Linked DNA regions of Homo sapiens. The protein of the gene in region 2 interacts with the protein of the main gene of each other region in a biochemical or structural test. Each region holds a gene or a part of one and is shown on either strand. Other genes may lie near its edges.

Region 1 (3,500 bases), on a different chromosome or scaffold from region 2:
TTGATGCCTAGCATTCCTTAACTTTTTTAATTGGCTAAAAGTTTTCTGTCCCACAAATCCTGCTTTGTCTTCTTTGGTATTTCTTTGAATTGTTTAAGCTCTTATTTTTAAAAAGCTACCTGGTTTCCTAAACCAAACAAGATTTTAGTAAGAATATAAAAACTGAAATAATCAAAGAGCCATATATGTCTCAGTTTTTTTAAATATGTTACTTTTTTGTGAGGATATTTCAGAAGTCAGATAGAATATAAGTTAAAACGGAAATAATTACAATTCCGACTAAGTCAGTTTGCACGTTTCCAGGAATTAAGACATATGACAGAGGGTTGCAGCAGAAATGTGACCAGATCCTCCCAGCTCTTTCATGATGAGGAGGTGGAAGGAATTCTAAAACCACAGTGCAGATGGAGGCTACCTTCTCCATAATTTGATGACTTAGAATATGACGTATTCTAGTTAATTCAACTAAAATTAGTTAATTGGATAAAAACTTCAATTAATTAATTAAGCTAATAAACTAGTTTTTCATTAATAAAGATGATCAGTTAAATTTAAACATTAAGCATTTACTAGCAAAAAGACATCACGGAGTCCTTATCCATAAAATGTTTTAGCAGGATATATCTGGTCTGTCTAGACTCCTTATTGTAGAGAAACAGGTAATTTATGGATTTATGAGGCTTGGCTGGCTGGAGAACCTGGAGGGGTGTATAACCTTGTAGGCTATGTAATTAACATAGTATAAAGCAGAGATGTTCCAAAATAAAAAATTTGAATATTGTTTCTCTATATATTACTCAAAAACTCAATTTGTAAGCTATTCCAACCAACATATAGATTGACGTAGAAAGAAAAGGGCATTCCCTACTTTCTGTTGCAAGAAGAATGAGCTACCTTTAAGAATTTTTTTTAGTTACAAGTGATGCCATGAAACCAGAACTCAGGAGAGATGACTGAAAGAAGCTCATCAGCATCACAACAGGATGCCAAGCCAAAGCTATAGGACTCTTAATTTGGACTAAACAAGGTTTGTGTTGCTTAAACACGCATCCAAATGAAGAGGTTAAGGCATTGCCTCTAATAGAAGCCACAGAGAGAAGTACAAATTGGGCTGAGTCACTTCATTTAAAGTGAGGCTGCAAACTGGTGGCCTGAAGAATGAATTCCACCCACAGATCCACAGTGTTTTAGAGTTTTCTGGATTTGAATGCCATATAACATGTGCTCTCTGGTTTGCCCCAATCCCCACCACTCCCTAATGTTACATGAGCTTCAAGTGTTTAAATTATCTTCCTGGGCCCTTCGGCAAACACAAACAAAAACTAAAAGTAGCGGGGAAATCACTCATTTCTAGGCAGACTGAAAAATTCAAAAGCCAGAAACCAGGCAAACTGCTTGCTTCATTTCAAAGTGAATAAAATAAGTCCTCAAACAAGATGACTCTTGGTAAAAACATGCCATTTATTTGGCTTAGGCTAGAAATCAGGTCCCTGTATGAGGTCTGCATGATCAGGTTTCAAAACTTTCCTGCACCTTCTTCTCTCCTGCTTGGATGGGAGACACCTGTTATCTCTCCAAGTCTTAAATATGGGACTTTGGGCTTTTAGTTTTACAAGTCAAAGTGTTTCTTTAAGTAAAAAAGTCCAGAGATGACACTTAGACATGTTAAAACAAGCAGCCTTCCCAAGAAATAGCCCCTTGCAGGAGCAGGCGACCTGCCCTAGAGGCCTCACCTTGGGAGTGTTGCTCCTCTCCCCTGGCCCTGGGGACCAGCTGCCATTGCTGTTCCAGCCGGCTTCCTGAAAGATGTCAGGGCTCCGCTGCCGAACCTGGCGGGACACGACGAGGTGAACACGTCTTTCACTGGCCTGGGCAAGAAGACACAGGCATTAGCCACTGTCAGTTTCCATCCACTGCATTCAGCACCAGGAGCTTACAAAAACATCACTTTGATTATACCATTTTTTTATGGCAAAACATGATTTCTAGTTTGTTGGGTTTTTTTGTTACTATCCATCTTGTAATTTGCCAAGAGCATGAGAGCTCTTTCCTTTATCCTTAAACCAGGTAGTAAATGTTGCTCCAAGGGAAAACTAGGGAAGGTTTGGTTCCTTCCAATCTTTGAAAAGGCATCATCAGATATTGCTAATTCATTTTTAATTAATGGTTGTACCACACACAAGCCATGCCCTAAGTTCTTCCCAGATAGAATTAGGTGCACTGTGTAAAGTAGCAGCCCAAAGCAAAGATCTAAGATCAATGGTACACAGTAAAGAAAAAGAGATGGAGTTAATGGCAGTAACTTGCCACTGCAGGAAGAGAAATCCTGAGCCTGACACTTGCAAATATTTGGGCATAGGAAAGGTTTAGCACTTTAGAAATATGGGGATGACTTCATACATTAATATGTACAACCTAATCAAAATCCTTTACCTTCAATTCACAATCACAAAGACATGGAATCAACTTAAGTGCCCATCAACTGATAGGTAGATAAAGAAAATGTGGTATGTATATACCATGGAATACTACTCAGCCACAAAAAAGAATGAAAAAATGTCTTTTGCAGCAACTTGGATGGAACTGGAGGCCATTATTTTAAGTGAAGTAACAGAGGAATGGAAAATCAAATACTGCATGTTCTCACTTGTAAGTGGGAGCTTAGCTCTGGAGATGCAGAGGCAGAGTAATATAATGGACTTTGGAGACTCAGAAAAGGGGAGGGTGAGTGGGGTGAGGGATGAAAAACTGCCTATTTGGTACAGTGTACACTATTCAGGTGACAGGTGCACTAAAATCTCAGACTTCACCACCATACAATGCATCCATGTAACCAAAAACCACGTGTATTCCTAAAGCTATTGAAATACAAAATGTTTAAAAAACTGCAAAAGAGTAATTTGCCTTGATTTCTTTATTTTTTATGGAACTACCAGTTACTCTGCTAATTCTCTCTGCTATGTACATTGATATTTGGACAGGCATTCAGAATAGCAAATATAGTACTTATTGGAAAGGTCCACTCCACATCATCGATATGGTTTGACTGTGTCCCCAGTCAAACTTCACCTTGAATTGTAGCTCCCATAATTCCCATATGTCATCGGAGGGACCTGGCAGGAGGTAACTGATTCATGGGGGTGGGTCTTTCCCATGCTGTTCTCGAGATAGTAAGTCTCACGAGATCTGATGATTTTATAAATGGGAGTTCCCCTGCACAGGCTCTCTTGTCTGCCACCATGTAAGACATCCCTTTGCTCTTCCTTCATCTTCCACCATGACTGAGAGGCCTCCCCAGCCATGTAAAACTGTGAGTTCATTAAACCTTTATAAATGACCCATTCTCGGGTATGTCTTTAATAGCAGCATGAGAGCAGACAAATACAATGATACATTTACAAATTGTCTTTCTGCCACAGATTAGTTTCACATGTGTCAGGTAGTATGGGCCATTATTCCAGAATTGCTGACCATTGAGATTTCAGAGCTGCAGGTCATTC
Region 2 (3,515 bases):
CCTTTACCTGCCTGGTGGAATCAATCACTTAAGAGCCTCATGAGGAGGAAGTAAAGTCTATATCCTGTCCAACGTCTAGATGCTTTTGGTGTTTTCATTTTGAGCCCAATCCTGCCACCATGTGACAAAGAGCCAACTTCACAGTTGATTAAACTTAGACCTAAGTAAGAGAGGAGGGAAAAATCTCCATATGGAATAAATGTGATGGAAATGTGTGAAATGAAGGAACTGTCTCCTTACATAAACTATTTTTAAAACAATCCATAACTTTTCCATTCTCATATGTGTATAACAGTGCAGGTATGGTGGCTATGAGAATGGCCTCCAAGACCTCTGAATGCAGAGTGTAAATGACTGAGGACCCTGATGCTGTACTCTGAAAGTCAGCATTTGAGCAGTGACCACACTGCTGCTCCCAGCCAATGACTGAACAGGGCAGAGACAGTAAGGTTGCCCTGTTATGGGAGATGTCAGACTCCCCAGTATCCTTGCCAAAGTCTCCTTAGAACTGCATTGTCTAAGATACTTCCATTCAATGTTCCTATCTTCACAACCTCTCTCCTTAACGTGGGTTCCCACCTGTCTTATGCTCTGATGCCTCTGCCAGCCTTATCTGAGTCCCTGGCTCCTCTGCCTGGTACCTGTAGTAGCCCTTGACTGGTGTGACTTCCTGTCATTCACCCAGTGATAGTAAACATCTGCTTTGTATTAGTTTAGGGTCCTGGGCCCAGATAATTTTCTTTCCCTTTCTCCAAGGCGAGACAGCTTTTGCTTCTACCCTCTCTCAGAAGCAAAATATCTTTGCCTGTGTCTTACAGGTTGGAGGGTTTCTTGCTACTGCACCAGTAAAGGTTCTGCTTTATAAGGGAGAACAGTCTGAGAAGTAAATGGGGTTTTGTGCCTGTGTGCCCACCAGGGGCTCTCTTCCATCTCTTTCCTCCTCTCAGCATGAGAGGTCTGTGTAAAGGAGGCCATGAGTGAGTACAGATGATACTGTGTCTGAGACTCCCAAGGATTCTAAATTGTCATAATAGCACATATTCAACCTTTAATTAGTCATCAAAGTTTTAGTTGCTTTCTTCATTCACTCTGATGGTTGCTGCCTTTTTTTCCTGTGATTTTCTAAAGGTTGAACAGTTGATGTTTTCTGTATATCCTCAGAGGGCTTGAAACTCTCAACAGTTGAGTTCATTTGGTTGCCTTGTGAGGTCAAGTCTCTGTTGGTCTCAAGAAAATTATGATTTTGCAGATTATCTTTTTTTTTAATTTCAAGATTGGAAGCAATGTTCTCCTACAGCTTTCTGCATGTTAAGCAGAAGGGAAATGCCCTCTGATTATTTTTAAAAATCAGTTATATTCCTGCATCAGGTTTCATATTTTATGGGTGGGTATATCAGAGTCAGAAATAGAATGTATATATAAATCATATGTTATGTTCTAAGCATGTTAAATTATATTATCATACAGTTGGTCCTCTGTGTGATGGTCACTATTCTGTAAATTTATTGACTGAAAACATCAAGCAGCAATGGAATGTTCAGTTCAATATCAGTTAAGGCTTCCATAGCAGATTTCCCCTAGACAAAAATAAATTGTTTCTAGTATACTTTGTTTGGGTCATTCTTCAAAACAATTACCTTGTCCTTTCCACTAGGTGGTTGACCAGATTGACACCCTGACCTCTGACCTACAGCTGGAGGATGAGATGACTGACAGCTCCAAAACGGACACGCTGAATAGTAGCTCAAGTGGCACAACAGCCTCCAGCCTAGAGAAGATCAAAGTGCAGGCTAATGCACCGCTTATTAAACCCCCAGCACACCCGTCTGCTATCCTCACGGTCCTGAGAAAGCCAAACCCTCCACCACCTCCTCCAAGGTTGACACCTGTGAAGTGTGAAGACCCCAAAAGGGTGGTTCCAACTGCCAATCCTGTAAAAACCAATGGCACCCTTCTACGAAATGGAGGCTTACCAGGTGGACCTAACAAAATTCCAAATGGAGATATCTGCTGCATACCCAACAGTAACTTGGACAAGGCTCCAGTCCAGCTTCTGATGCATAGACCTGAAAAAGACAGATGTCCCCAGGCAGGGCCTCGAGAACGAGTTCGGTTTAATGAAAAAGTACAGTACCATGGCTATTGTCCTGACTGTGATACCCGGTATAACATAAAAAACAGGGAGGTCCACTTACACAGTGAACCTGTCCACCCACCGGGAAAGATTCCTCACCAAGGCCCTCCCCTCCCTCCTACACCCCATCTCCCTCCTTTCCCACTAGAAAATGGGGGAATGGGAATAAGCCACAGTAACAGCTTCCCCCCTATCAGACCTGCAACTGTGCCTCCTCCCACTGCACCAAAACCACAGAAGACGATCTTGAGGAAGTCAACCACTACAACCGTGTGATGTATGCCATTAAAAAAATTGTTTTTTTAATTTTCTATATTATAAACATAAAATAAGTAATGAGCACTTTCTACTCAAGCAATAAAAAGCCCAAATATATTAATCCTGCATTCAGCAAAGTGGCATAAAAATCACCTGGTAAGTATGCAGCACATTGCTTATATCCTGGGTATGCATTATTTTAAATGTTGTATCATTAAAAACCTCAGAATGATGAAAAATATGAATGATGCATTGTTTTTGCAATTGACCTATGACAAACTGTGAACCTGCAGATTTCACCTATTTTGATTTACTATAAGAGCTGGGATTTGATTCATTTTATTTATGCCTAAGTCATCTATGCATTAACATGTCATATTCTTAACTTTGATCTAATGCTTTTTACTAGGAAATTTTAATACTGAAGGACTATTTTATTATTTTTTTCTAAAGATGTTTGTCACTAGTTTTTCATTATTAAATGCTGAGGCCAATACCAAGAAGTTTATTTTCTATATTATACAATTATGAATTACATGCTCAGCTATATATGTAATAAAATACTTTGGTCTGTGGAAATATTGTTAAATCAATAAACAATAGTAAATAATGACAAAAGCAAATGTTCCTCAGAATTAAAATGAAGTAGTGGTTCATTTAATCTCACTTAACATTCCTCAATATGGGCAGCAAATCTGACAGAGTTTGGAGAAGTTACAGTGAGTGTATATCAGAATTTTCTAAATGAAATATCATATTCCACATCATAAATCAAAATCTACACACTACATATTTTATACTTCCATTTGGTACTTCAAGAGCCTTCTGTTGAACTCTCCCTATGTTGCCAAGCCCTCCTCATACTCAGCATTCTTCCAGGATGTACCCTAAACTATTACATTGAGGCTGTAGGGTGTTTTGCCTCCTGCATTAGCAAGCTCTCTGCCTCCCCAAGTGGACCCACATTTATAGGAGAATTATAGGGGGATATCTGAATGCTTCTGGTATCAGGATGTGTTCAGCATTTGGCGTAAGTTTTTCCCCCTCAGAGTTGAAAGATACCATGGGCCGTTGCTGTCTTCTAAAAGAAAGAGAAGAAATCTTTCCTTCTAACATCAAATAA

Evidence for each region.
Region 1: the proteins of PRR16 (region 2) and LNX1 interact in a test that uses a peptide from one of them, tested with the Homo sapiens proteins (one large-scale study listed by IntAct).

The regions. Positions count from the first base shown.
Region 1 is NC_000004.12:53,479,987-53,483,486, forward strand, and holds part of LNX1 (E3 ubiquitin-protein ligase LNX), read right to left. Parts: intron 1,869-3,500; coding exon 1,734-1,868; intron 1-1,733.
Region 2 is NC_000005.10:120,684,300-120,687,814, forward strand, and holds the end of PRR16 (protein Largen), read left to right. Parts: intron 1-1,654; coding exon 1,655-2,410; 3' UTR 2,411-3,015; downstream 3,016-3,515. UniProt on the Homo sapiens protein: Regulator of cell size that promotes cell size increase independently of mTOR and Hippo signaling pathways. Acts by stimulating the translation of specific mRNAs, including those encoding proteins affecting mitochondrial functions.